Linked DNA regions of Homo sapiens. The protein of the gene in region 2 interacts with the protein of the main gene of each other region in a biochemical or structural test. Each region holds a gene or a part of one and is shown on either strand. Other genes may lie near its edges.

What was found.
Region 1: the proteins of CTSB (region 2) and CSTB form a complex in vitro, tested with the Homo sapiens proteins (2 studies listed by BioGRID).
Region 3: the proteins of CTSB (region 2) and CST3 form a complex in vitro, tested with the Homo sapiens proteins (one study listed by BioGRID).

The regions. Positions count from the first base shown.
Region 1 is NC_000021.9:43,773,449-43,781,165, forward strand, and holds CSTB (cystatin-B), read right to left. Parts: upstream 2,861-7,717; 5' UTR 2,822-2,860; coding exon 2,756-2,821; intron 1,312-2,755; coding exon 1,210-1,311; intron 883-1,209; coding exon 754-882; 3' UTR 502-753; downstream 1-501. UniProt on the Homo sapiens protein: This is an intracellular thiol proteinase inhibitor. Tightly binding reversible inhibitor of cathepsins L, H and B.
Region 2 is NC_000008.11:11,865,088-11,872,149, forward strand, and holds the start of CTSB (cathepsin B isoform 1 preproprotein), read right to left. Parts: upstream 3,001-7,062; 5' UTR 2,914-3,000; exon of another isoform or gene 2,167-2,913; intron 1-2,166. UniProt on the Homo sapiens protein: Thiol protease which is believed to participate in intracellular degradation and turnover of proteins. Cleaves matrix extracellular phosphoglycoprotein MEPE. Involved in the solubilization of cross-linked TG/thyroglobulin in the thyroid follicle lumen.
Region 3 is NC_000020.11:23,634,955-23,642,591, forward strand, and holds the start of CST3 (cystatin-C precursor), read right to left. Parts: upstream 3,002-7,637; 5' UTR 2,909-3,001; coding exon 2,666-2,908; intron 414-2,665; coding exon 300-413; intron 1-299. UniProt on the Homo sapiens protein: As an inhibitor of cysteine proteinases, this protein is thought to serve an important physiological role as a local regulator of this enzyme activity.

The sequences.
Region 1 (7,717 bases), on a different chromosome or scaffold from region 2:
GACCAATTCCATGAATGGGAAGTAATCCCTGTTGAAAACTAGAAGGTGTTTTTAAAAACAGCCACGCTCTCCTAAGATACCTCCCTTTAGAAGCCCACGTGGCTCCATGGGAAGCCTCCCGCACCACAGGGCACTCAGTGAGGCTGCAGGCTATTCTGCACGTGCACGACACTGTGTGGCTGCCTCTCCGTACCAGAGCATAAAGTGCGTGAATGTATCTGAGATCTGGAGCCAGTTATGCTCTGGAATTGGATTTACTCACACTCTTTTATTTTATGGGAGAAACTGAAGCTTGGGGCCAGGACCTAAGAGTCAAAGCACCAACATGTAAAGAGTGGTGGTTAGGAACGCGGGCCGGAGTGGGCAGGTGTGAATCCTGGGTCCACCACCTGCTTGCTGTGTGAGCCAGGCAGTCTCTCCGCCCTCCATGCCCCCGAGGGGAAGGACCTGCCCGGGGTGGTTCAGACGAAGAAAAAAGTCTAAAACAAAGGAGGCAATCTGTAAGGATTTTAAAAATATATCTATTTTGAAAATATTCTGAAAGTAATTAAGATCACCTATTGGGAAGGAAAGAAATCAACACAATGAAATTTAGGAAGAGAAATGCAAAAGCAGCTGCAGAATCCTGCCCCTTCCACCCCAAGGGGCACAGCCCGGAGATGAAGCTTATTTTAGGATCACAAGTGCACGCTCTGGTAGACGGAGGATGACTTTGTCAGTCTTCTGGCTGAAGGGCCTTGTCCAAAGTCAGGATCAGAAATAGGTCAGCTCATCATGCTTGGCTTTGTTGGTCTGGTAGTTAGATAAGGTCAAGGGCTTGTTTTCATGAGGGAGAGATTGGAACACTCGCAGGTGTACGAAGTCCTCGTCGCCGACGTGCACCTGGGAAGAGAGCGGAGTGAGCGAAGCCTCTGATCCCAAGTCACCTTGCTGCGCCCCTCCAGGTCATTAGCAGCCAGCTGAAGACAATCTTGTCTTCTCCTGCATGTGCAGGGGATGCCTCACATCCCACACTTGTTTCCTTGGGGTTCTTAGCTCCCCAGAAGCCCTAGTCCTCCTGAAAGGCCGATGGACACACACAGTAGGATGCTTATCTCAGGGGGCAGCCACAGGGCGCCCCAGCACCTAAGACCACACAGCCCGGGCCTGCACAGGCGGTTTCCTACCAGCACCCGTTCGGGGCAGGCCCTCCTGAGGCCCACACTCTACCTTGATGAAGTAGTTTGTCCCCGCGACCACCTGGCTCTTGAATGACACGGCCTTAAACACAGGGAACTTCTTGTTTTCTTTCTCTTCAAGCTGGGACCTCACCTAGACAGAAGGGACAGAATGAGGATGTCTCAGTGGCTTCTTGGATTCCCTCCTGCTAGAGTAACTTGCACGCATGTGAGCACACACACGATTCTGACACTGGCTCTTCACACAATTGTCTCTTACAACTGAAGGGACATTTAAACTGTCAGCCTAATAATAAAGTAGAAAAAAACAGTTCCAGCTGGGTACGGTGGCTCAAGGATGTAATCCCAGAACTTTGGGAGGCTGAGGTGGGCGGATCACTTGAGGTCAGGAGTTTGAGACCAGCCTAGCCAAATGGCAAAACCCCGTTTCTACTAAAAATACAAAAATTAGCTGGGCGTGGTGGCGAGCACCTGCAATCCCAGCTACTCGGGAGGCTAAGGCAGGAGAATCCCTTGAACCTGGGAAGCGGAGGTTGCAGTGGGCCGAGATTGTGCCACTGCACTCCACCCTGGGCAAGAGTGAGACTGAGTCTCAAAAACAAAAAAAAAAAACACAGGCCTCAGCATCGCCTGGACCTGTTCTTGCTTGGGGCATCCCGTCGGTCACCAACCATGACAGCGAGGCGGGCCTGGCCTGTGCTCCACCGGAGGGGGCTTCTTGCACAGATGACCTGCTCATTTCAGCCCCTCCAGAATCTTCTGGCAGGCGCAGAGCAACAGGACGTCCATTTTACAGACGAGGAAACCGAGACACAGGGAAGGTTGCCATCTGCAACCCAGCCCGGTTTTTATCTTGTTTTTCTGTGTTTTAACTTTTTATTTAGACTTACAGTTTGAAACAGTGCTAGAATCGGAAGCATGTAAAGAAACCTGTGGACCTTTTATGCAGATACACTTAAGTTTTTAACCCATGTGCCTTATCACTGGGGACCTCTTGCACTCTCTCTCATGATTTTTTTCCCGAACTAGATGAGGATATTGACAAAGATTCTTGCTTGGCCAAACTGTAGTCGGGCTCCTGAAGCGCCTAGGCCACCTGCGCACTTCCTTGTAAAATCCACTTTTAGCAAGAAGCCTGGCTAAGTCAGTTTAGCCAGACCCTTCCCACCCGCTTGCTATCGGATCACCGTGGAGATCGGAGCCGGCTGCTCACCTGCGCCATCGCCGGCGACGCCCGATCACCCTGCCTGCCTGAAACCAGAAGCGCCTCATCCCTGGGGTTTCCTCTCAGAGACTGTCCATGCAGGGACCGCACCCTGCTCCGGGCTATCAATTCCCACTCGCCCTTGCTGTATTCAGCGGAGCCCAATGTCTCCCCAGCGGCGCCCCAGGCGCGGCCCCCCGCTGCTCACTCGCGCGCAGCGCCCGAGCGGAGGGAGGCCTCTCACGGCCACAGCCCGGGCCAGCCCAGGGGTGCGCAGCGGGGCCAAAGCGGCTTCTTTCGCTCCAGGAGCCGCGGCCGCGCCCTGAGGCTAAGGCAGGACTCCGGGCCGGCCCCGTCCCCGCGGCCCACCCACCTGGTCGGCGATGTGCTGGGTCTCGGCGGTGGCCGGCTGCGTGGCGGAGGGCGCCCCGCACATCATCTTGGCGGCGACGGAGGGAATCTGGCGAGGGGACTCGGCGAGGGGACGCGGCGGCTCCTCAGCCCAAGTAGGCGCTGGGGTCACGTGACGCGCGGGCGGAACCAAGGGGCGGGGAGGAGGCACTTTGGCTTCGGAGTCCCCTGCGGGGTCGCGGTGGCCCCGCAAGAAGGGACGCGCGGGGCGGGGCGCGGGGCGGGGCGCGGGGCGGGGAACCTGGCCACCACTCGCCGCAGGCTGGGTCTCCGCGCCCAGCGCTGGTGTCGGGAGGGAGCGCCCCCCTCCCGGGGCTGGTATCGTCTTTCCGGGCGCCGAGTCACACGGACCGGGGCGGGGGCGCGGCCGGGTGTCGCCGGTGGGTTGGGCGCGCAGGGTGGGACGATAGGGAAGGGGCAGTCGGAGTAGGCGCAATCCTGCAGGGTGGCGGGGTCCGGGCCGCGCACGAGGGAGGGCGGGGCGCAGCGCTGCAGGGGTCAGGGGTCAGGGGTCCCGGCCCCGCGGGAGCAGGTGTGCGGGCTGCAGTGGACATCACCGCTTGTGACCGAGAACACTGAAGGCTGAAGGGGGTGGACAGAGGGGCCCAGGGAGGGGGAGACGGCGCCCACGCGCTCCAGGCTGGGTGGGGGCAGGGGGTAGATCAGAGGGATGAGAAGAAGGCAGGGTTCTCTGGTGGAATTTGCGTTTTAGGATTTCTTTTCTTTCTTTCCTTTTCTTTTCTTTTTTTTTTTTTTTTTTTTTTTTTGAGACGGAGTCTCGCTCTGTCTCCCAGGCTGGAGTGCAGTGGCGCGATCTCGGCTTACTGCAGGCTCCGCCTCCCGGGTTCACGCCATTCTCCTGCCTCAGCCTCCCGAGTAGCTGGGACTACAGGCGCCCGCCACCACACCTGGCTAATTTTTGTATTTTTAGTAGAGACGGGGTTTCACTGTGTTAGCCAGGATGGTCTCGATCTCCTGACCTTGTGATCCACCCGCCTTGGCCTCCCAAAGTGCTGGGATTACAGGTGTGAGCCACTGCGCCCGGCCTTTTTTTTTTTTTTTTTGAGACGGAGTCTGGATCTGTCGCCTAGGCTGGAGTGCAGTGGCGCAATCTCGGCTCACTGCAAGCTCCGCCTCCGGGGTTCACACCATTCTCCTGCCTCGGCCTCCCGAGTAGCTGGGACTACAGGCGCGCGCCTTCATGCGCAGCTAATTTTTGTGTTTTTAGTAGAGACGGGGTTTCACCATATTGGCCAGGCTGGTCTCGAACTCCTGACCTCGTGATCCACCTGCCTCGGGCTCCCAAAGTGCTGGAATTACAGGCGTGAGCCACCGTACCTGACCTCTTTTCTTTCTTTCTTTTTTTTTTTTTTGACAGAGTCTTGCTCTGTTGGCCAGGCTGGGGTGCAGTGGCCTGATCACAACTCATTGCAGCCTGGACCTCCTGGGCTCAAGCGATCTTCCCACCTCAGCTGCTATAGTAGCTGGGACCACAGGCCCACCCTACCACACACATATATAGAGACAGAGAGTTTCACCATGTTACCCAGGCTGGTCTGGAACTTCTGAGCGATCTGTCCACCTCGGCCTCCCAAAGTGCTGGGATTATTGGCATAAACCACTGCACCCCTAATTTTTTTAAAAAGTGTTTTTGTAGAGATGGAGTCTCACTATATTGCCCAGGCTGGTCTTGAACTCCTAGGCTAAAATCGATCCATCCCCCAAAGTGCTGGGATGACAGGCTTGAGCCACCACACAGTCCCTTTGGTTTAGGGTTTCTGTTAGACTGGACCACCTGCGGAAGGGAAGGGTCGCTTGCCTTATTTGGGGTGGGGGTGGGGCCTGTGCTAGGCACCTGTTGGTGTGATTGACTCCTCAAAATGACCCAGAGCCCCCACCCAAGGGCTGTCCCTCAGGGGGACTGGTCCGCTCCTGCATGCAAGGCCCCAGCTGGAGCGGCCCATGAATGGGTTGTGGGGTCCTTTCTCTTACCTGCCAGGGCACAGCCTGGTCTGTCACTTCAGGGAAGGGCCCAAAGGGGTGGGCAGTCAGGTGTGGTTGAAGCCTGGGGGGAGCGGGGCAGAGCCCCCCATCATTGTTGAATGAGTGAAGGCAGAGTTGACCCCACGAAAATGGAAAACTCTTCTATGTGGAAAGCAAAGCATCAGGGGAAAACATAGTCAAGAAGAGAAAGGGATGTTCCCGCTGCTTGTACGGTTCCTGCAGCTCTGTTGGGCTTGTGCCGTGGAAGGTGTTGGCCTTGAGGCCTTTGTTCCTGAGGTGCTTCCTGGAGTCGGATCCTCACTCTCCTTGCTGGAGCTGGTCCCAGGTGCCTCCGTTTTACAAATAGGAGGATAACAGCTGTGGAAATAAAGCCCACGCAAATGAGAACAAAAGACGATTTATTCAGGACTTGCTGTACAAGGGAGTCGCCGTCCTCTCTTGTGTTGACCGAGATTCCTCAGCAGGCGGGGGCAGAGCCGGGGAAAAGCCTGGAATGGGAAGGGGAGGCTCAGGTGCACCTGAGGGAGGCTGTGGCCTGGGGAGACGGAAGAGGGGCTCACTAGGAGTGTGACCGTGACAGGTCCGTTGCCTAGGGTGCAGGAAGTCAGCACACTGCCACCCAGGGTTTGCAGCAGACAGTTTGAACCGCAAGGTTGTAACTGGGAGGAGACCTCAAATCCATCTCCCTGAGGAGTTTGGGGCTGGGAACTTTCAGGGGTTTGGAGTGGGCTGAGGGCGGGGGCTGCTGACCGGTGGAGAAGTGCAGGGTGAAGCAGGGTGGAGTCATGGGGTGGGGTTGAAGATGCTGTATTCTCATGCTGGTTCACTTCCTCTGTGGGGCTCTTCAAACTGGTTGGCCTGGAATTAAGGATCTGAAACGTCTTAAGGAATTCTTAAACAAAAGCCTCATGATTCTGAAGTCAGAGATTCCGTCCATAGGAACAGTAGGGGTGCAGATAGTCACTAGCGCTACGTGACTTTCAGTTAGAAGGAAGTGGGTTAAAGTGTAGCCTGACAAATGCTGAGTTATCCTTCTCTTCCTCCCTCCCCCCTCCCTCCCTCCCTCTCTCTCTCTCTTTTTCTCTCTCTCTGTCTCTTTCTCTCTTTCTTTCTTCAGAGTCTCGCTCTGTCATCCAGACTGGATGGAGTGCAGTGCCATGATCTTGGCTCACTGCTGCAACCACTGCCTCCCGGGTTCAAGCGATTCTCCTGCCTCAGCCTCCCGATTAGCTGGGATTACAGGTGCGTGCCACCAAGCCCAGCTAATTTTTGTATAGAGACGGGGTTTCACCATGTTAGCCAGGCTGGTCTTGAACTCCTGACCTCAGGTGATCCACCTGCCTCGGCCTCCCAAAGTGTTGGGATTACAGGCATGAGCCACCACACCCGGCCTGTAACTCTATTTCTGCTGAATGCTTAGTTATAATAAATATATAATAAATATAATATATAATATATAATAAATGTACAGAACCTGGGCAGAAAGCTTCTGGCTAGCCGTGAAAGTTGAGGTTTGGCCTCTGGACAGTCGCTGTGGCTCAGAGTTCTCTTCCCATATTTGGTCTGGCTGTTTTCTGTTTGTGTGTTCATTGTCTCGCAATGTCAAAGCTGCCTTCGTGCTGCAGGTGTGGGTGCAAGCAGATGTTTTCAAACCATCTTGGAGGGCAGGTGCTGGAGCCCAGCTGCCTGAGTGTGGACCCAGCCCTTCTTCGCACCTGCTGTGTGGTGAAGGACTAATTGCTGAAACTCTCTGTGCCTCTCTCTGTGGGGATAATGCTAATAACCAATCTCAAATTTTTTTTTAAAGGACTAAGTGAATTAGTAATTAAGTACAAAAAGCTTGGGACAGTGTCTGAGCTCCAGGGTGAGTTGTCAGTATTGTTATTATTGGTATGCTAATCAAAGCCAACCTAGAATTTGTATTACTTTTCCAATCAAAAGCCCTGGAATTTTTTATTTTATTTATTTATTTTTTTGAGACATGGTCTGATTCTGTTGCCCACACTGGAGTTCGGTGGCACGATCACAGCTCACTGCAGCCTGACCTCCCAGGCTCAAGCAATCTTCCCACCTCAGCCTCCTGAGTAGCTGGGGCCACAGGTGTGCACCACCATGCCTGGCTAATTTTTTTCATTTTTTGTAGAGCTGGAAGTCTCACTATGTTGCCCAGGCTAATCTTGAAATCCTGGGCCCAAGTGATCCTCCCACCTCTGAAACCACCTTTGCAAAAATTGTATCCATGAGAAAATGGTGGCAGTGGGAGAGATCTGAACCAGCTGACCCGGCTCTGGCCTTTAGCTTTTAAGCTGCCTTGATTATTCCTGGGTTTAGGCTGAGCTAACTTTGGCAGACATTTAGTTTACAGTTTAGATGATACTGGCCCTTCCCCAAAACTCAACCACCTTTGCAAAGCTCATGAGAGACTAGGCTAGGAGAAGGAGAGGAGCCTGGGTTCAGCTAAGGTGTAGACAAACAATTGCCAGCCATTATTCTGGAGGTCACAGGACAGCAACCTCCCCAGTTAGTCCTGCAGTTAATGTCGCTATTGTAGACTGGCCTTTTGAGATACTTTTGCAGGTTTTGGGCATGTCTGACACCCATGGCTCTACCTGGACCCACTGACCATGGCTCCTGTGGCCCCTCCCAGAAGCAACTCAGTGCAAAAGGACATCTTCCCATGATGTCATCTCCGACCCACTCGGTCAGCAGCAAGCACCCATTGCCCAGCCACACCAACCCCTTCCCCCAAACCACTTTTGAAAAACCCTAACCCACAGGCCTGCAATGAGGTTGATTTGAATAATTACTCCATCTCCCTTGTGGCATGGCCAGGCCAGCCTCACATCAATTCACTTTTTTTTTTTTTGAGACAGAGTCTCCCTCTGTCGCCCAGGCTGGAGTGCAGTGGTGCAATCTTGGC
Region 2 (7,062 bases):
CCACCCTGATATCCCAGAGGCACAGCACATCTGTACATGCCTCCCCTAGACTCAACTGCCTGTCACCCCAACCATCTCCCTTTACATGGACCATGTGGAAGTGCCCAGTAAATATCACTCAACCGCACATGTTTCCAATAATTTCCTTAGGCCAGACCATTGAAAAGAGGCAGCAGACTGGGCGCAGTGGCTCATACCTGTAATCCCAGCGCTTTGGGAGGCCGAGGTGGGCGGATCACGAGGTCAGGAGTTCGAGACCAGCCTGGCCAACGTGGCAAAACCCCCACATTGGGATTTTTTTACATTGGATTTTTTTAGGAGAGACAAAAAATCTCTACTAAAAATAAAAAAATTAGCTGAGTGTGGAGGCACATGCCTGTAATCGCAGCTAGTTGAGAGACTGAGGCAGGAGAATGGCTTGAACACAGGAAGCGGAGTTGCAGTGAGCTGAGATCTTGCCACTGCACTCCAGCCTGGGTGAGAGAGTCAGACTCCACCTCAAAAAAAAAAAGGAGAGAGAGAAAAGAAGAATCGACATACCTGTAACTCCTCCCTCTCAATGTTTCAGTCCATATCTCGAAAGGACGGTATGTTACTCTACACAACCACAACTCATTACCAGATTTAAGAAAATTACCCCTCCACCGCGCGGTGGCTCATGCCTGTAATCCTACCACTTTGGGAGGCTGAGGCGGATCACTTGAGATCAGGAGTTCGAAAACCAGCCTGGCTAACATGGTGAAAGCCCGTCTCTACTAAAAATACAAAAAAAAAAAAAAAAGCCAGGTGTGGTGATGGGCACTGGCAATCCCAGCTACTTGGGAGGGAGGCTGAGACAGGAGAATTGCTTCAACATGAGAGGCGGAGGTGGCAGTGAACCGAGATCGCACCACTGCACTCCAGCCTGAGCGATAGAGGGAGTGTGTCTCAAAAAAAAAAAAAAAAGAAAGAAAAAGAAATTAAGAAAGAAAAGAAAATCACTGACAGACATCCCAAGGCACCCCTGAAACGTGACCTCCCTTCAATTCACTTCCCAATCCAACCAAGAGCAACAGAAAATATCTGTTACCCCTAAAATGGGTGCAACTTCTCTTCCAACTCCCAGGTCCAGCAGCTGGGGAAAGAAAAGAACCTGCCTACAAAAAGAGCCTCCCCAGTCTGCTAAATCAGCACCACATGGGCAGTTTCAACCTGGAACCAAAGGGCCACCACCCCTCACCGCCTAACCAGTTGGAAACAGGGCTGTCCTGAGCCAACACCCAGGAGAGCTGTGCCAGGGCCGTGTCTGGCCTGCGTTGCCACCTGGGGAGCAAGGGACCTGTGCCTTTCCACCAGGGGGTACCCCCAGCTAGAGGACAAATGACCAAAGACGAAGGGAAGCCTCTGTTCTCCAGGAGACGTTTGACTCTGTCTTTGGGAAAGCTACACAGGGTGGGCGGCCCAGCCCCTTTCTCCAGGAGCTGGCGGGTTCTAAGTCACCAGCACCAGAGCCAACAAGAAACAGTTCTTGGCCAGGCACCGTGACTCACCGGGAGGCCGAGACAGGCGGATCACCTGAGGTCAGGAGGTCAAGATCTGCCTGGTCAACATGGTGAAACCCCATCTCTACTAAAAATACAAAAATTAGCTGGGCGTGGTGGCGGGCACCTGTAATCCCAGCTACTCGGGAGGCTGAGGCAGGAGAATAGCTTGAATTTGGGAGGCGGAAGTTGTAGTGAGCCGAGATCGCGCCACTGTGCTCCAGCCTGAGAGACAGAGCCAGCCAACGCCCTCTTAGGCCTCTTCGCCTTACGTTCCTGAACGTTTGGATTCAAAGAGAGTGCATCTCAGCTATCCTCTCCTCCGGCAGCAGGCAGTGGGAATGTTTTTCCAGGCTACAAAAAGGTGCCAGGTCTGCATTTGAACCCCACAGCGTCACTTCTCCAGTGGGTTTGGGGGGTCTCTCGTCCGTTAGGAGGAGGAGTGTGGGGCCTGCGCTAGGGTCCTTTTCTTTGCCAGCCTGCTGGCTTTCTCAGCGCCTGGGAAGGGGGTGACAGAGGCCCACCAGGAAGCCAAGTGCAATTCACTTCCACCTGGGTCGCCCACCCCAGCCTGCCTGCAACGCCCCACACCCAGCACCCACTGCTCCCCAGAGGCCAACTCCCCCCGGCCTCCAGGGCTACTAACCGAGGGGGAGGTGGCGCCCCAGGGACTCTGCCCGGCCTCCCTTTACTGGAGTCCAGGAGCAGGGTGCGCCCCCGGCCTTCTCCCCACCGGCATCCAATCGCCCATTCGCCTCTTGGTTTCGCTGTCTGGTTTCTCTTCCTGTTTATGGATTTAACACCGTGCGGCTTCCTCCCCAGCCCACCCAGTGCCAGATTCCTGTTCTTCAACAGGACCTGTCTTCTGGGGTCCCAGGAATTGCGTGGGATCTTGCGCAGAAAGTTGGCCAGGCAAATCCTTCGCAATGAGGGGGAAATAAACCGAAAATAGATGCCGGCAGATGCGATTATGTCGGCAGTTTGGCCCGGAGACACCGAGGCCCAGGCGCTGGGAGCGCGGTCCCAGGCAGCAGTCTCCGGACCCGGCCGAGCTCTTCCTCGCAGGCGCCTCCCTCGGCGGTCCTGGCCGCGTCCCCGCTCCGAGGGCCGGGGTCCGGCGCACAGCCCGGGGAGGGGAGCGGAGGGCAGAGGGCTGGCGGGCGGAGCTGTTTTCTGCTTTTCTCGCCGACGCTTCGGAGCGCGCGGACTCCCACCCCAGCCCGCCCGTCAGGGACAGTCCCGAGGGTCCCGGCTCCCCGCCGGCCCCCAGGGACGCCGCGGGGCCGCGCCTGGGCCCGACTGAGGGCGCAGAGGAACCCGTCTCGGCGGCCGGGTAGCACCGTCCCCGCCAAGGTCACTTACGCTGCGGTGGCCCCGGGTCCCCAGCACTCACCCAGCGCTGCAGCCGAGAGCCTGCAGCCCAGCCTGCGCGCAGCGGAGCGGTTGGCGTTGCCGGAGCGGTTGCCGGAGCCCTGCAGCCGCCGTAGCCTGGGCCAGCCCCGGCCCTAAGTACCCTCCCGGCCCCGCCCCACGTGACCACCGCGCAGCCCCGCCCGGGCCCTCCCGCCGCCCGCGCACGGTGCTTCCCAGCCCCCACCCCCTCCCGCCACCTTCCGCCGCCCGCGCTCCCCGCTTCCCGGCCCCGCACACCCCCCGCCCCCTTCCGCTCGGGGTCCGGGGCCACCGCCGGGGGCGGGCGGGGGCCTGAGCGCGCGGGCTGGGGAAGAAGGGCTTGGAGCCCTGCGGGCCCTGGGTGGCGAAACGCTGCGAATTGGGGCCAGGGGATGGGGAAAAAGCCCCTAAAGGTGGTCCCAAGGCCCCCACCCCGCCTAGAAAAGTCCCCCCGCCTCGCGGGACCGCCTCCGCCAGAACCCGCGCCTGGGATCCCTGCCTGCCGAGTTGGCGGGGGTGGGGTGGTGGAGAGGGCGCCGTCGCTTATTTCATTCATTCAGAAGCCGCTGCAGAGGCTGGGGGTGGCGAGGCTGTGGACCCCACAGAACAGCCTTTAGAAGGGCCACTTTGTTGTTCAGAGAACGTACCCACAAAACACTACAGCTACGTACAAATAGAAAAGAGTGGCTGTCACTGCGAAGGAACCTAGGAGCTGCGTCAGGATTTCTAAGAGGAGAAGGACCTTGGGGGCGGAAATCGGTTTGGCACAGGAGTACCCGGAGACCTGCTCCGAGAGGACGGACAAAGTGCACATTTACTTGGGGTTTATTACCGGGAGGCCCTGGAAGGGAGATGCAGGGGTTGGCTCAAGACTCACCCTCCTCCAGACACTCCCCAAACAGCTTTAATCCTTAAGACAAACCTGCAAAGCAGGCATGACCCCAGTTGTATTCAAGAGGCTCAGAGGGGCTGGGTTCGGTGGCTCACGCCTGTAATCCCAGCATTTTGGGAGGCCGAGGCCGGTGAGTCACCTGAGGTCGGGAGTTCGAGACCATCCTGACCAACATGGAGAAACCCCGTCTCTACTAAAAATACAAAACTAGCCGGGCGTGGTGGCGCGTGTCAGTAATCCCAGCTACTCGGGAGACTGAAGCAGGAGAATCGCTTGAACCCGGGAGGCGGAGGTTGCGGTGACCAGAGATCGCACTATTGCACTCCAGCCTAGGCAACAAGAGTGAAACTCTGTATTAAAAAAAAAAAAAAGGCTCAGAAGAATCGTATTTTATCCAGGCTGTGGCGACAGTAAGAAGGCAGTAGCCGGGTGCAGTGGCTCACGCCTGTAATCCCAGCACTTTGGGAGGCCGAGGCGGGCGGATCACGAGGTCAGGAGATCAAGATTATCCTGGCTAACACGGTGAAACCCCGTCTCTAGTAAAAATACAAAAAATTAGCCGGGCGTGGTGGCGGGCGCCTGTAGTCCCAGCTACTCGGGAGGCGGAGGCAGGAGAATGGCGTGAACCCGTGAGCTGAGATCGTGCCACTGCACTCCAGCCTGGGCGAAAAGCGAGACTCCGCCTCAAAAAAAAAAAAAAAAAAAAAAAAAAAGGCAGTAGGACTGCATGGGACCTGGTTCCCTGCAGCCTGGTCGTCAGCTGTCACACAGCCCTGAGCCTGTCTTCAGAGACATGCCTGTACTCCCGCCTGGTTAGTAACAAACTAAGGATAGGAGTGGAAGGAAAAAATAATCTCTGGAGCCCAAACATGGTCACTAAGCCCCCAGCAGAGTGGGATACCCGAGGAACTGAGGACCAGGAGGCTGGAGGTCAAGGTGGTCCCAACTGCCTGCTCACCCTAGTCATATCCTGACAGCCATGGACTCTGGACTCCAAATCATTTCAGACCTCTATAAGGAGCTCATAAGATGGCCAAAATGGGGAGGACACAGCCAGAACCAGGATAACTCTCCCCTCTCTCATCCTTAGAGTGTGACAGAAGGTATGCAGAGCAGAGTGCTTGACATGCGTTATGGCTATTTGATGGAATTTTCCATCAGTGTCATTATAGAAATCACTTTTGAGAGGTAAAAATCACTTTTGAAACAAAAGAAACAGGCTAGGCGCGGTGGTTCACCACTGTAATCCTAGCACTTTGGGAGGCTGAGGCAGGCAGATCACCTGAGGTCGGGAGTTCCAGACCAGCCTGGCCCAAATGGTGAAACCCAGTCTCTACTAAAAATACAAAAATTAGCTGGGCGTGGTGGTTCACGCGCCTGTAATCCCAGCTACTTGAGAGGCTGAGGCAGGAGAATCGCTTGAGCCCGGGAGGTGGAGGTTGCGGTGAGCCAAAATCACGCCATTGCACTCCAACCCGGGCAAGATTCCATCTCAAAAGAAAAGAAAAGAAAAAAAGAAATAGGCCAGGCGCAGTGGCTCACGCCTGTAATCCCAGCACTTTGGGAGGCCAAGGCAGGCGGATCACGACGTTGGAAGTTCAAGACCAGCCTGGCCAACATGGTGAAACCCCGTCTCTACTAAAAATACAAAAATTAGCTGGGTGTGGCATTGCGGGCCTGTAATCCCAGCTACTCGAGCGCTGAGGCAGGAGGATCCCTTGAACCAGGGAGTCAGAGGTTGTAGTGAGCCGAGATCACGCCATTGCACTCCAACATGGGCAAGACTCCTCAAAAGACAAGAAAAGAAATATATTACTACCAGAGTAGAATTCGTCCCTTCCTGGAACATCCAGGAAAGCTTCATGGAGAAAGGAACATACAGCATATTTACTTGTATATGTTCCTTCCTGCCCTCACTGGATCTTAAGCCCCACCCAGGCAAGCATTTTTACCTGCGGTGTTCCCCTGCTTCATCCCAGCTCATTGCAGGGTGTCTGGCCCATAGCAGAGGATAGAGAAATGTGAGTTGAGTGGATGCATAATGAATGAAGTAGGCCTTGAAGTTGAGGAGAATTTTGGCTTAACCTGCTAGATTTGGGGGTCAGGGTTCAGGGCCTGGGGAACAGCTCTCAGAACTTACAGAGAGGCCTTGACTCACGTGTGTAAAAGCTGTTTGCTTGTTGAACATCCGTAAAAGAGGCCTAAGTTAACACCTGAAAGAGGTGAAAACATACGTCCTCACAAAAATCCGCCGGGCACAGTGGGCTCACGCCTGTAATCCCAGCACTTTGGGAGGCAGAGGTGGGTGGATTACTTAAGCCTAGGAGTTCAAGACCAGCCTGGGGAACATAGTGAGACCCCAACTCTAAAACAAAAGTTAATAACGTATGTATAAACTTACACCAGATGTTTATAGCAGCATTATTTACAGTAACCAAAAGGTGAAAACAACTCAAATGTCCATCCATTAAAAACCATTGCACGAATAAACAAACTGTCATAAATCCACCAAATGGAGTTTTATTCAGTCGTAAAAAGGAATGAAGTAGTCACACATGCTACAACATCGATAAACCTTGAAAACGTTTACTAAGTAAAATCAGCCAGGTCCAAAGGACTCAGTATTGTATGATTCCGTGAAATCCACATGGGAGGTTAGGTAGGTGACAGCTAAAGGGTGTGGGGTTTCTCTGGGGGCTAATATGAATTTTTTTTTTTTGCCGAGACAGAGTCTCGCTCTGTCGCCCAGGCTGGAGTGCAGTGGTGCGATATCGCCTCACTGCAACCTCCGCCTCCCGAGTTCAAGCAATTCTGCCTCAGCCTCCTGAGTAGCTGGGGTTACAGGCACCCGCCACCACACTCCCCTAATTTTTGTATTTTTAGTAGAGACAGGGTTTCACCATGTTGGCCAGGCTGGTCTCGAACTCCTGACCTCGTGATCCACCTGCCTCGGCCCCCCAAAGTGCTGGGATTACAGGCGTGAGCCACAGGGCCCAGCCTAATTTTGTATTTTTTGTAGAGACGGTGTTTTCCCATGTTGCCCAGGCTGATCTCAAGCTCTTGAGCTCAAATGATCCTGCTGTCTCCGCCTCTCAAAGTGCTAGGATTACAGGTGTGAGCCACCTCGCCCAGCCTGATTTAACTTTTTAATTTTTAAAAATTATCCTTGAATACGCTACAGTGCCCAACTATTCAGTGTTGAAATGAACTGGATTTCTTATTTGGCTGTGATTGTTTCCAGTATTTTCAGAAATATGT
Region 3 (7,637 bases), on a different chromosome or scaffold from region 2:
TGTGAATGTATGTGCACAGACACCCCCACACATATGTGCACACACATATACTCACACACCCACACCTATCCATGCATAAACCCCCACACTTCCCCAACACATCCACACACCCACTTGCACACACTCACGTGCACTTCCCCACACAAACCTATACTTGGAAACACATATGCATCTCCACGTGTACACACACTCAGGCACATGCACACGTACCCTGCAGAACATGTGCATCACACACACACACACACACACACACCCCTCTGCAGTGTATGACTGGCCCTGGACCCATATAAGGCACATACCCTTTTCAGATGTGGCTGGTCATGGAAGGGGCAGTTGTCCAAGTTGGGCTGGGTCTTGGTACACGTGGTTCGGCCCAGCTCCACGTCCAAGAAGTAGTTCACCCCAGCTACGATCTACACATGTGAAAGAGCAGGAGGCAGGGACAGCACGTTCTGTCAGTTTCTTACACACACAGGCACTTCACTGTGACCGGGTCACTGGGCTTGCCTGGGGCTTCAAGCCTACCTTCATGAGCTGCCCACATTGTCACCTGCAAGGCACACAAGCCACCTCCTCCTGCCAGCTGGCAGGGATGCCATGCCCCAGGCCTCCCCGGTAACTTGTTTCTCTATGCCAATGCCAAGGATTAACTGAATTCCGCTACCTATGACCCAGGGGGCAGGGACACTGGATCTATTCTAGGAAGGTTCTCATGTGATGATGAAATTTCGGCAAACTTCCAGTTCCTGGCATTCAGTCCACAGAGCATCTCATTCCTGCCATTTAACCCAGAGGTATTTTTCCTCATTTCTCACTAGGAGATGAGATGCTCACATACATTGATGTTTTAGGCCAATAAACATTGCTTCCCACGTGCTTCCATTCCAGGTGTGATTTTCAAGGCAATATTTCTAAAGTGAGTCACACACCTGCATGTCTTAGGGTTGCAACTTCAGAAGAGAACTGAATGCTTTCCCTGCACAGTGCCGCCCCAAAACATGACTTGTCAGAACTGTGGAGAAGCATGGGATGAGGGACCCTGGGACCAGGGTGCTAGACCTTGCCCTGTGGAACCACACACAAGTCCTGTAGAAGCACAAGCAAGGCCTGTGATCCCTCTGGTGTCAGTCTGCTCCTCTGTAAAATAGGCTCCAGGGCCCAACGATCTACAATGCCCCATGCTTCACTCCCAGTGAGAGAGAGGTGCAGGCCAGCGGGGACCCTACACCAGGGAATGGCCCTCCTGTGCAGGGAGAGGGCCCCAGCTGACGGCTGCGGGAGAAACGCGGCTGGTCTGGACTCCTCTGAATTTCCAAGAGAAGGTGGAGGAGCTCTAAAGTCTGTGTCACTGTTCGCTGCTCTGCCATGGGATGCAGGTCAAGCTGGGCCTGGTAGCCCTACTGAAGCTCCCTCCCGATCCGACCCCCTACTCCGGTCTGCTGGGTGTCTTCATCTGGCTGAGGTCTAACTCTGCATCAGCTGATAGAGGCAGGGTCAGGCATGCTCCACCCCAGCAGGGACTCAGCTGCCCTGGGATGTAGGGGGTGGTCAGCCGGCCTGAGGGTGAAGGCCGCTAGTCCTAGGGGACTGTGCCCAGGGGTGTGACTTGGGGAGGGAAGCAGGGCTCTGCAGGACAAGGTGCCAGGCTCACGTGTGGCCCCTGCGGAGAGTATTCTGGGAGGAGGATGAGCCGCATGGCCTAGATCTCATCTTGAGCAGCATCAAGCCCACCCAGAGTCAGCATAGTCTCCATCCACACCTGCTAGACCCTGGGAAATGGCACGGTCGTGGCACAGACCCAGCTGCTGCTGCAGGTTAAAAGAGGCCGAGGGGACAGGACAGGGCTGAACTCATGCACTCATGGCCCAGGAGCGTCCTAGGGCACGAAGGCCGTCAACAGACAGGGAAAGCTGAATGAGTCTGAGCATTAGATCATGAATGTGTCAGTGCTGATTTTCAAAATGGAATAGTGATTATGTGCGATATTGCCCTTGTTTTTAGGAAAAACACACTGAAGTGTTTACTTTCAAAAGATTCAGGCAAAAAATGCATATACAGTACATATACACACACCCATATTCACATTCGGAAAGTGAGCTGGGGGGAACAAACAGGGCAAAATGTTAACATCTGTGCTAACATCTGAGGGATCTGGGTGAAAGATCTACAGGGATGCCCTGTGCTATTTTGCAGCTGCTCTGTAAGTCTGAAATTACGGGAGAATAAAAAGTTAAAAGAAACAAAAGTGCTTAAAAATTATTTGGTGGAAGAACAAGGAGGCAGCCAGATGAGGGGCTCTGTTTTTCCTTCTCCTGCGTATTCAGCAGCGCACCCGGAGCCCAGCGTCCCAGGAGGTCGGGACAGAGCTGTGTGGGACGTCCTGTGCCTGCCCCCGCGCTGCGGCGCAGCTCGAGCTGGCTCCTGGAAGCTGATCTTAGGCGCCGGGCGCGGACCTGACGTGTCCGTGCGGTTCCAGGCCAGGCCAGACTCAGGGCATTCCCGGACACGCCCGCCAAGGGCTCGGGGGTGACAGCGAAGACCGGGAACAGGGTCCGGGTGAGAAGCCCAGGCGCCGGAGAGGAGCAGCACGGGGTCCGGGAGCAGCGCGGGGGGAGGCTGGGACGGCGGGGCCGGGGCTTCGGACCCTGCGGGGGGCGGCACGCACCTGCTTGCGGGCGCGCACCACCTGCAGCGCGCGGCTGTGGTACATGTCGTTGCTGGCTTTGTTGTACTCGCCGACGGCAAAGTCCAGTGCACGCCGCACACCCTCCTCCTCCACGCTGGCGTCCATGGGGCCTCCCACTAGGCGCGGCGGCTTGCCGGGACTGGAGCCGGCCGCGGGGCTCACGGCCAGGGCCACGGCCAGGATGGCCAGCAGGAGCAGCGGGGCGCGCAGGGGCCCGGCCATGGTCGGCTAGGACGCGGGACGCGGGGAGTGGGGCGCAGGCGAGAGGCTGGAGCTAGATAGAGAGGACCCGCTGCGATACCGAGGCGAGGCCGTGAGCCCCGCGAGGCCGGCGACTGCGGTTTTATCCCTTCCGGCCTTCGCCGCCCCACCCCACCGCGGCCTGCACTCCCTTTTCCGGAACGCCTCGTCCCTCCCACCTCCCTTCTCCCTCCCCGCCTCCCCTGCCTCTCCCCGCCTCCCCTGCCTCTCCCCGCCTCCAGGTCCCTCCCTATCAGTCTCCTCCCATCCCAGCCTCCCCTGCCCCTCCAGGCTTCCCTGTCCTTCCCCATCCATCCCCTTCCCTCCCCTCCCAGCCCCTCCCGGCCTCTCCTCTCCCTTCCCGCCTCCCCTCTCCCTCCCCTCCTCCCCTGGCCCCCCAGTCTCCCTGGCCTTCCCTATCCATTCCCATCCATCCCCTCCCCTCCCCTCCCCCTCCTCTCCTACTGTCTTCCAGCCTCCCCTGCCTCTCCTATCCTCCCCATTCCTCCCCATCCATCCGACCATTCCCACCTCCCCACTTCGGGCCCCTCCATGCCGCCACTCTTCAGGCTCCTTCTCCTCTGTCCCTTTCCCCTTTCAACCCCCAGACACCGCCTCCCATGCCCCTCATCTCCCTCCTCCACTCCTGTCCTTGCTCCCACTTCGCCCCCACCCCAGCTCGGCCCCTCTTCATCGCCCCTCCCTCGTCCCGCCCCTCCTCTGTCTTCCCTTCCTACCCATTCCTGGCCTCTCCCTGTCCCTGTCCCTCCTATCCTCTTCTTTCCCCTCTTCTCACCCCACTCCTGGCCCCTCTTCCCCCACCCCTTCCACACCTATGCCCCCCTTCTACCCACTCCACCCCCTCAGCTCCATCTCTTCCCAAAGACCTGTCCCTCCTCCCAAGCTTAGGTCACCCTGCCCTCCAGAGAGGTGTCAAGGCCCCCTGGGCCCTAAAAGCATACGACCCCCTAGCTTCATTTCCTCAGAAAAGGGAAAGATAGAGGTCTCGGCCTTCCGGAGTCTTCAGAGGTCCTGAGTATCCGTGAGCATTTGGTCAAGGTCTAGAAATCACTAAGGCAGAGGTGTGATTCCAGAGGCCACAGGAGACTCAGGCCATGCCCTGTGCTAGGGAACTTTTCAAACAGAAGAATTAACCTTTATTTGAGTAAAAAACTCTGGGTTCTCCTTTCACAACTCATTATTCAGTAAACAGACTTTTCACCAGCTTCCCCCTGCACCAGGTAGTCTAGGAGCTAGAGACGGAGCCTGGGTGACCGAGCCATGGACACTACATTGCAGGGCTGCTGCCAGACAGAAATGTGACACGAACCCAGGAGCAATTTAAAACTTTCTGGGAGACACATTTCAAAAAGTAAAAAAGAAACAGGTGAAGGTAATGTTTATAATATTTCTTACTTAACCTAATATATCCAAAATATTATTTCAACACATAAGAAGAATCATTAATAACATAGGTTATTTTATTTTGGGTGTGTGTACTGAGTCTTTGAAATTCCCTGTGTATGTGGGTGTCAATTGTACTGGCCCCATTTCAAGCACCCTGTGGCCACATGTGGCTGGTGGCTGTGGCACTGCACAGCCCAGCATTAGGGTGTGTGGGAGGATGGCGAATAGTGATCAATAATTAATATCAGGAAATTAGTCTCTCTGTTGGAAGTGAGAGTATGGGATAGAGAGAGATGATGCCACTGGACCTGGTCAGGGAGGACTCTATGAGACTGGAAAGGTGAGAAGCCCTGCCTAGACAGGAAACAGCCCCAGGCAGCGGGAAGGGCCAGTGCAAAGGCCCTGAGGCGGGGCTGGGCATGCCTGCTCCAGGAAGAGGAAGCTCCTGGAGGGAGTGTGAGCAGGGAAGGGAACGATCTGGAGTCTCATGGTAACTGTGGGTGGGGCCGGGTGGAAGGTGCAGTGAGACCCATTGGCAGGCAGTGGGGGTGTCAGGAGAGGGAGCAGCAGCCACAGGATGAATGTGGGAGCCCACGGGTGTCTCTTGCTCCTCCCCTCTGGGCGTCATGCTGCTGGCGCTGGTCCTCTGCACTGCTTGGAAAACTCACCTGAGTTTAGAACATCACTGTGAGTGAGGTAGAATTTATAGACAACAAAATGTCTAATCTGGGGGATTTCATTAACGCATATACCCGTGTTACCACTTTGTCCAGACCTGTGACATCTGCCTTGCCCCAGACGGTGTGTCCTCCTGCCTCTGCAGCTCACCCTCATGCCCATCCTGCCCTGGCAGCCCCCATCCTGCCCTATAGACTCGTTTGTCGCCTGTCCTTGAGCTTCCCAGAAATGGAGTCCTGCAGAGCAAGCCTGGGTGTGTCTTTGTCCTTTGCTCAGTGTGGCTTTCCAGTGGGCCCTGAGTTCCTTCATTGCCAGGATTGTGAGTTCTTCTCCCCAGACTGAGAGGACCTGATCAGCTGGGTGCCCTGTGGGGTGACAAAGTCCCCAGCTTGGGATGCTGCGGACCTGGGCTGGAATGTGACTCCAGGAGTGGCGAGGGTGGAAAGGAGGCTCTGAACAGACAGCTGCTCCCTTTGTTCTCTCAACCCCACCCTCCATGCCTGAAGGTGACCCTGTGGCAAATGCCCTTATGGCGAGGTGGCAGCTTTGCCAGAAACACCAGAAAACTCTGGGCCTTTGCAGGGCACCCAGAGGACTCTCCTGGGAGTGGTGGAGGTGAGGGTCAGCCAGGGTCAGCCCAGACCTGCTGTGATCCTGGGGCTCCGCCATGGCTGGGGCTGGATCAGCAGGAACCCGGCAGCGGGAACAATATTACTCATGGATGCTCATGTTCAGTGGTGGGACAGGGGACCTTGTTACCCGAGGCCCAGTGACCATCTCACCCCACTGTCAATCCAGCGTCCCTAGAAAAGCCATGCACCCCAGCAGATACAGCAGGTGGCCCAGATGGTGTTTACTGCTGGGTGAGGGAAGGAAGGTCTTCAAACAGGGTTGCGCATATGCCTCCTAGTTAGACAGGAAATGGGGAGAGATTTTCAGAGAAGGGAAAGAGAGGGCAGCCCCTGGCCAGGTGCTTGTGAGCAGAATGGTCATCTCCCAAGTGTGGGAGTTGGTTCTTCTCTGTGGCTCCCACCTTCCCTGGCCACTGGGGCTCTAGTCTCAAGAGGATGTGTTGTGCAGAGGGTAAGCTGAAATACACACAAATCCCCTGTCTTTTGTCATTAGGAAGGACGTGCAGGTCACCCAAATAGCAGGAGCATGGTGGTAGGTGGGGTGTGAGGTGGGAGCTGAAGTGCTGGCCTATTTCCCTGTATGTGATTCCACCGCCGGTGGTCATCCTCTGTCAGGACGTGCCCTGCAGGCACATGCTGCAGGGAGGGTCAGCTGGCCTGATGCAGCGACCTCTCTAACCCTTGTAGGACAGACACCAGTGTAGGGTGCTCTCAGGAGCTGCAGGAGCCGTGTTCAGTATGCTGTAATAGGAAGTGAAAGGTTACAGTAGCTGGGCAGCTGCTCCTGATATTTGGTGACCTTGAGCAAATGTTTTGCCTTCTCTGTGGTCATGTGTCTGGAGAGGTAGACTGCCTTGTAAACTGTTGTGCCTGGGCATCAGTGATGATGTTTAAACACGATTAAAAGTAACAGAGCAGCCTACAGCTTCAAAGACATGCTACAGAGACACAGAGAGAAACAATGGACCTAGGACTGAGCCTGGGGCCTCCAGCACCCATGTACTTGGAGGAGTCCAGCTGCCCAGGAGGGGGCATATTTCCCTTCTGCCAGGTGATGAAAGAGAAAGCCGTGGTCTCCCAGGCTGCCTTTTTGACTATTGATCTCATCATCTGAATTAGTAGAGTGAGAAATTAGGTAAATGGCAGAAATTCTCTATAATAAATAAGCAATAATAACAACACTAAACAATGCTATAATAAATAAATGACCAAACACATAAACAGCACCTAAAGGTGCAAGTGGTTAAATCAAGTTGGCCAAGAGTTGAGATTCTGCACTTTGGGTTTTGAGCAATTATCACTCGGTGTCTATAGAGGGAGCTTGGACTGAGCAGCCACGGGTTTTGGTAGCCTCTCAAAGGCAAAGCCCAGGAGCCTTCCTTATGGAGTGCCCGGAGTCCTCTGGGGTCAAGCCTGTCCCTTACACACAGGCTCCCTCCTTCTCCCCTCTCTCTCCCCAACGATGGAGGAAATGCAGATGCTTCTAGACCGTAGGCCAACATTGGTAATGCATTTGGCTCCAATAGAGATGAAGCCACATCATTAGGAAACTGATCCGCACTGGGAAGCCTGCTGGCAGCCTTGCAGACTGAGGCGAGAAAGGGCAGAGCCCGGTGTCTGCGGCCCATTTTGCACTTCATGGGGGGATGAGAATCCTTGGGACATTTCTGCTCAGGAGCAAATGTGTAAACGGCGCTCATCATTTTGGATTACAGGGTTAACATTTATTTTCTCAAGGAGTGCATTCACCAGAGCAGAGCCAGTGACTGAAGAACCACATCTGAGTGGAAGGGAGAGAGAGAGAGGCCTCCAGGGACACAGGCTGCTGGCTGGTGCTGCCAGGGCTCCACCTGACTCCCTGCAGAGGCCTGGCCACGAAGAAAACAGATGGCTCTGAGGGGGTTGAGCAATCCCTTTGGCATCTCTGAGTGGTCAGTTTACTTTCTAGACCCACGTTCTTGTAACATTCCCCTCTTAGTGTTTCTGCAGCCTTG